Regions from separate parts of the Homo sapiens genome. Here region 1 is reported to be linked to region 2. The links are microRNA targets in miRTarBase. Many come from high-throughput screens and were not tested one by one. Region 2 holds a microRNA gene; the other region holds the end of a gene's coding sequence.
What was found. The annotated mature microRNA hsa-miR-7158-3p reads CUGAACUAGAGAUUGGGCCCA and lies in region 2 at 2,004-2,024, opposite strand. An mRNA with a match to its seed (bases 2 to 7 or 8) in the 3' UTR can be bound and repressed. Matches are read on the target gene's strand: a 7mer-m8 pairs with bases 2 to 8, a 7mer-A1 pairs with bases 2 to 7 and ends in A, and an 8mer does both.

Region 1: miRTarBase lists TOX4 as a target of hsa-miR-7158-3p. Seed matches in the 3' UTR shown: 7mer-m8 at 2,147-2,153.

Annotation. Positions count from the first base shown.
Region 1 is chr14:21,496,381-21,499,737 of GRCh38, forward strand. TOX4 (TOX high mobility group box family member 4) reads left to right here. Exons shown (of 9, transcript NM_014828.4): 9 at 166-2,790. The coding sequence ends at 226. METTL3 (methyltransferase 3, N6-adenosine-methyltransferase complex catalytic subunit) reads right to left here. Exons shown (of 11, transcript NM_019852.5): 8 at 3,112-3,220; 9 at 2,926-2,991; 10 at 2,645-2,757; 11 at 1,758-1,989. The coding sequence ends at 1,878. Among named protein-coding and RNA genes, the nearest start is that of METTL3, 13 kb to the right of the region's middle. RefSeq lists enhancers at 2,292-2,381, 2,412-2,461.
Region 2 is chr2:5,973,323-5,976,735 of GRCh38, reverse strand. It overlaps MIR7158 (microRNA 7158), which reads right to left and starts at 2,074; the gene lies at 2,004-2,074. SILC1 (sciatic injury induced lincRNA upregulator of SOX11) reads right to left here. Exons shown (of 2, transcript NR_026832.1): 2 at 1-3,413. RefSeq lists enhancers at 473-1,126, 2,006-2,507.

The DNA.
Region 1 (3,357 bases), not on the chromosome of region 2:
GCCGGGCATGGTGGTGGGCACCTGTAGTCCCAGCTACTCGGGAGGCTAAGGCAGGAGAATGGCGTGAACCCATGAGGTCCGTCTCAAAAAAAAAAATGTATCTAGGCTGTAATTCTATTTCAGTTTGTGTATAATTCTGTTTGTGTATGTCTTTTTCTCTCTTAGGGATGTATTCTTGGCCTGGGTAGCCTCTAGAAATTCAAACACAGTGGTGTTTGTGAAATAGTCCTTCCTGTTCTCCAAGCCAGTGAAGAGTTATCTGCTGGGAAAGTGTCCAAGAGCCTGTTTTTGAAACACAAGCTGGGCTTCTGGTAGTGCCTCATCACAACCCATGATGGCTGTTCATGTTTCACCCCTTTTCTTCCTTCAGCAGAGGCCAGGCTATGGAGCAGGGCCACTGAATTTGCTGTAATCTGGAGATGCTTTTTACTTTCAACCATAAGCGGTAATAGCAGAGGAAAGGGTGAAGGGAGTCTGGGCAAGCAAAGCATAGAGATGGTGGGGTGGTGGTGGGGTTGAAGAAACTTGTTGGTATAATTGTCATAGGACTTGCCTAAAATATTATTAAAATTACGGGAGTGTACTCAGCTTTGAGCCTAGGAGAAAATGCCACTGTGTGCATCCATTTTAAAGGGTTCCCTCATAAAAAAATGTTATTCCCCATTATCACATCAGTACACTGCTTTGAAAACAAAACTTTTCAACATGGGCATACTGGGCTACATGGAAAATGACATCACCCAGGAGTGATTTCTCTTTATATATATTATTTCTGCAGTTACCATCCTTATCTGAGTTATCACAGTTCATGAATCTAAGAGGCGGAACTCTACATCATTAGTAAGAGGTTCCACCAAAGTCTAAAGTTGTATTCACTTGTGTTTGATGAACTATCTTTAAAAGACCATAGGTCTATCATTATTTCTTAGACATAATCTAAAGAAAAACAGACTAGAGAAGCCACCTGGTTGTAACAGAATAAGCAGAAGTTTACAGCATGATAGTCCAAGTGGTGATAACTTTAAATAAAACTCAAATTTTTACTGTTTGTAGACAGGAATGCTGTCCTAGAGAACCTCCTCCTCAACCAGCTACGTACATAGTTTTATCCTATGCATTCCTGTTTTCTGTGTGTTTTTTGTTTTTTTTTTTTTTTTTTTTTTTTGAGACAGAGTCTCGCTCTGTCACCCAGGCTGGAGTGCAGTGGTGCGACCTCAGCTCACTGAAACCTCTGCCTCCCGGGTTCAAGCGATTCTCCTGCATCAGCCTCCCGAGTAGCTAGGATTACAGGCGCCCGCCACTACGCCCAGCTAATTTGTGGTATTTTTAGTAGAGACAGGGTTTCACCATGTTGGCCAGGCTGGTCTCGAACTCCTGACCTCATGATCCGCCCGCCTTGACCTCCCAAAGTGCTGGGATTACAGGCATGAGCCACCGCACCCAGCCTGCATTCCTGTTTTTTTAATGGTTTTGGAGGGTAGCAGTAGAGATGGGGTCTCACTATGTTGCCCAGTCTAGTCTTGAACTCCTGGGCTACAGTTACCCTCCTACCTCGGCTTCCCAAAGTGCTCGGATTACAGGTGTGAGCCACTGTGCCTAGCCTATAATGATCATTTTAATGTTTCCCATGCACTCATTTAGTTTGAACCTTCACAGCAACCCAATGAGGTAATACTCCCATTTCACATATAATACTGAGAGATGAGTTGCACAAGATTATACACTGTTAAGTAGCAGAGCCAGAATGGACTTCAGAATCCCAACTACAATACAAATGTTTATTTAAATAAAGAAGAAAGCTATTGTACAAATATCACTCTTCAGGTTTAGCTTACAGAGCCATGGCTATGGATTCTTAGCTCTGTAAGGAAGTGCTTCTATAAATTCTTAGGTTTAGAGATGATACCATCTGGGTACCTTTGCTTGAACCGTGCAACCACATCTGGGTCTAGTAGGTGGATCCCATCCAGTTGGTTTCCAAGGGTGATCCTGAAACAGTGTAAAAGGAGGGGCAAACCAGAAATCCTGGAATTAGAGGGTTTAATATTGTTAAAAAATGCATACCAAATGAAGACTGCCTATCATCATATCAAATATGCCAATTCTAAAAAGAGCTTAACATTAGAATAGTATATGGTAGAATTACTAGTTCAGAATTGGCATAGATTCTGGTGTTAAAATAGACTGGATCTGTATTATCTGAGGGTTAGTAACTAATGCTTAGCCAGGCCTGCTTCACAGAGTTGCTACCAGGGAGTATTCTTTGGATAAGCAAAATGCTAGCAGCATGTGTTTTAAGCTCTGTTAAGGGGTGAAAGATGTAATTATTGACAGATTAAATAGATAACTTCGTAACCACCAGGGGGCAGATTCAATACATCACAGAATGGCTGAGGAAGATCCTTGGGTTGTGAAGAGAGTAGAAACCCTAGGGAGCAGTGCTTTTGGGTCCTAGAACCTGTTGAGTTTCTAATGAATATTTGTAGAATCTCATAAAACAGTTTAAATACAAGCTTAAGTGGCTTATGAATCCTGTGAAGCTCATTTATGGACTAGTGTAAAACAATGTGAAGCTCTACTAAGTTCTGTCCTTAATCATAAATAATAGCCCCTTGAGGACTAGCCTGTTCTCTGGTCACCTTACCAGTTGGGTTGCACATTGTGTGGTCGTCCAAATAACTCAATCTTGCGAGTGCCAGGAGATAGTCTTTCAATCATGCCATAGATTTCATCTGGTTTATGACTGGTGGAACGAACCTAGGAAATAAAAACTAGCTGCTTTTTAAGTTACACAAGATTGCAATTCTAGCCCTTTCTATTATGTTTATGATCTAAATGAGAAAAATCTGGGATGAGAATACACCCAACATGAATAACTGATACCAACAAAAATGTGGAAGCTTTGGAGGCCTGGGAAGCACATACCTCAGCTACGATCACATCACAATCCAGACCCTGGTTGAAGCCTTGGGGATTTCCTTTGACACCAACCTGCTCACCACAGATAACAGATTACCTTATGAAACCACACCTTTGAACTTTTTCTCAGTAAGAAATCAAATGATTCTTCTTTGTGCTCCACCTATTGAATTGGGCCCCACTGCTGCTCACCAAGCAGTGTTCCTTCCCATGGTTCAACCAGTGACCTGTACGGCCTGTCCGAATGATGCGTTGCAGTTGATTTGTCTTCACCCAAATAATTTCATCTACCCGTTCATACCTGTGGGGCATAAAAAAGAACTAGAATTTTAGCCAAACTTTTACAGTTTAGGGGTAGTACCATTTATAGAAGCAAGGAATCACAGAATAGTCTGGGAGAAGAGAACATGTATCTCACTGTAACAGTATTACCCTCAA
Region 2 (3,413 bases):
AGCCTGTAGGCCTTTTAATGTGTCAGCGTAACCCGCCGTTAACGATATTTAATTGCTATCTACAGTAAGTTCCGTAGATCATTACCATACCAGTCATTTTTCAAAGATCCTCGTTAGCACAGGACTAGTGAACACAATAAACGATGTGACAGGAGATGGCTAGAGAAATGCTGCAGAGAATGAGCTCATGTAAGTCAGCCAGCTCATAGAGGAAACCCCCTATCTTTCTACTGGCACCATAATAAAATCCACCATGCACACTGGGCTATTTCCACTGCAGTGCATAAGACAAGAGAAATGGGTCACTATTGTGCTCCTGCTGGTTTCCTCTCCACCAATGCAGCTTGTTCCCTCACATAGTAAGGTGATGTCCACAATGCCTGGCTAGAACAGAAAAGATCTGACAACACCGATGTCCACACCTGAAGTGCCTGAAAATAGCACCTTCCTATGAACATTTAAGTTGGCAATCCATCCATTTGGGAGGTACATGTGTACTGTGAACCTACCCAGAACCAGGCACTTTGCTAAGGCATTGAGATTCAAGGTCAAGGGAGGCACAGTCCCCATGGACCTTGCAGCCGGGGACACAGCTAATGGACAGGAGACATTCATAGTCCAACTCACTTGCTTTATTTCAGTGACTTTATTTTCCATTTTGTTATTACCTTCTTTTTCAAGTCTCCTGTTGGAATTTGGATTATGTTACTTTATTTTTTCCTTTAAAATGCTTTTTGAATGATCAAAGGCCCATTTTAATCCCTCTATTGTCTGCAGCTCCTTAGAGGTGAATTCTCCTTTTACAGAGTCTGTTTGCCCTCAAGGTGATGAGTCTCCACAGGTGCTGGGGGCACACCTTCCTTAGGAATCATTCTCCCATGGAGTCTCAGAAATGCCTTGAGCTCTGCAGGCATCTTCACTGGAGCAATGATTTTTATGCTGGGCTTGAGACTTTTGGGTTGCAAGCTGTTCCACATCAGCTTTTACCTTAAATTCTTGCTCAGATTTTCCAAACAGCAAAGACAGTGTGAATGGAGGCCCCTTACACCAGCCACAGTTGGCGTTCTGACTCCTCTGTGTGACTCCTATCCCACACCAGGCCCAGTCCCAGCATTAGCTTTTGTGATGCATTCCTTGGTACAGAAGGCTAAGCATCGCTAATTTCTATTCAGAGACACAGGGACTCTACCCTTGTTCCTGGCTTTATAAAGCTGCTCAGTTCTAATGTGCACTGCACACAACAGCTGCCAGGGCCACAAACACCCCCAAGCAGACGTTAGGCTCTCAACCCCTAAGATACAGTTTTCCTCTCAATAGCTCATAAGACTCTGCCCTCTGACGTGAGAAAATAGAATTCTGTTGTGCTTTTTAAGTATGCCTATGGCATCTTTTAAAATATACCATATATGATCCAGTATTTCTTTGTGTTTGGAGTGTGAATCTGCAGGTGAAAGAGTGTGTTCTACACGTGCCCGATCCATCCTCATTACACAAATTCACCCTCTACTTTAAAACAGGGAATTTGGGCCTTTGACAGGAAAGAAGCCGGACAGTCATGGGGCCAAACTGGAATCAAATGTAAATATTTAATTTCCTCCTGTTAAAAGCAGAGTGGACCCACAGTCCCTCCCAAAGTAAAATGCACAATAATGTGTCAAGAGCCCTGGACTTATTGCTTCTCGGACGTTAGCAAAGATCAAGCGCAGACCACTGGCTTTGGGGTCTGATACCCCAGGAGAGTCCCGGTTTCGTGCTCATGTGTTATGTGACCCTTGACCCCTCGTTCAATTCTCACGTGCTTCACTCTCCTAAGCCATGCAAAAGGGACATAAGGATATCTCCTGAAAGCAGAGTCGGCTGGAAGGCTGGAAGGCTTATGTGAAGCAGTTGCATATCACTTAGCACTTAGAATGGGCAAATAAAAAATGGTTTAGCTTCTCCTTTGTGGGAACAGAGACTGGGATGGTTTGTATCCTGGCTCTCCTGAAACTGCGCTGCCGAGCTGGGCCCAATCTCTAGTTCAGCTCGCTTCAGAAAGCCAAAGGCAGAAGGCTGCAGGACCAGAGATTGAGCCTGGCCACACAGCCCCTTCTTCCTGATGCCACATGGCTGGTGATCCTGGTCACAGCCTGCCTGAGCTGGTGGAACACAGCTTTGTCGGACTGTTGAAGATAACCCTACAGAAAAATCACCTGGTGAAGGGCAAATGCGCATGTTTTGTCATAAGACCAACTGGGTTTCCTAAATCAGCCAAGCCGTTTATCCTGTGGTCTTGGCAACAGGCTGACCTTCCTTTTACAGAGGAGATGGTGATGCCTGGTCCCAGAGGAGCGCTGTGAGCACCCAGGCATGGATTACAGTGCTTAGCACAAAGTAACATTAAATGTGAATCTCTCTTCTAAAACTATGTTACAAAAAGCAGTAATTCATTCCAAGCAAGACTGTCAGTTTAGGTGAATCAAGTAATCATAATTTCTCTAAAACCTTTTTTCTACTGTAAAAGCTTTAATTTTTGTCTTTATTTTTATTGATACATCTTAGATGTGCATATTTTGGGAGTACATATGATAATTCAACACATTCATATAATCAAATCAGCATAATTGGGATATTTGTCACCTTAAATATTGATCTTTTCTTGATGCTATGAGCATTAGGTTAATGGGTACAAATGTACAGTTAGATAAAAAGAATAAGACCTGGTCTTCAATACATCATGGTGGCTATAGTTAACATTAACCATTGTACATTTCAAAATGCTAGAAGAGAATAATTCCAACACGTTTTTTGTTTGCTTACTTTTTTCTGAATTCTAATAGACTGATACATCAGTCCCTGCTGTAGCGAAAATAATGACTTCCTCAAAATGCACTTCAAGAATGTGACCTCAATGGATGTAACAGAAAGAACCTGCTCTTGGTGTTTGGGAAAGAAAAGGTGTTAGGCCCGCCACAATTCCTTCTCCTCCCAGGTGATTCAGAGTCCTGGAGGACAGAATACCTTGGGAACTTGAGTGAACTCCTTTCACCAGCCCAGCCTTGACTCAGATTCCAGCTCATATAGCTCACAAGCTCCACTGCCCAGGCCAAACCCCTCAAATGCTTAGGTTTTGTTTGTTTATTTGAAAGAGTTTTGCTCTTGTTGCCCAGGCTGGAGTGCAATGGCGCAATCTTGGCTCACTGCAACCTCCGCCTCCTGGGTTCAAGCGATTCTCCTGCATTAGCCTCCCGGGTAGCTGAGATTACAAGTACCCACCACCACGCCCGGCTAATTTTTTGTGTGTTTTTAGTAGAGACGGGGTCTCACCATGGTGGCCAGGCTGGTCTCAAACTCCTGACCTCAGGTGATCCGCCTGCCTCGGCCTCCCAAAGTGTTGGGATTACAGGCGTGAGCCACCACGCTCGGTCTAATGG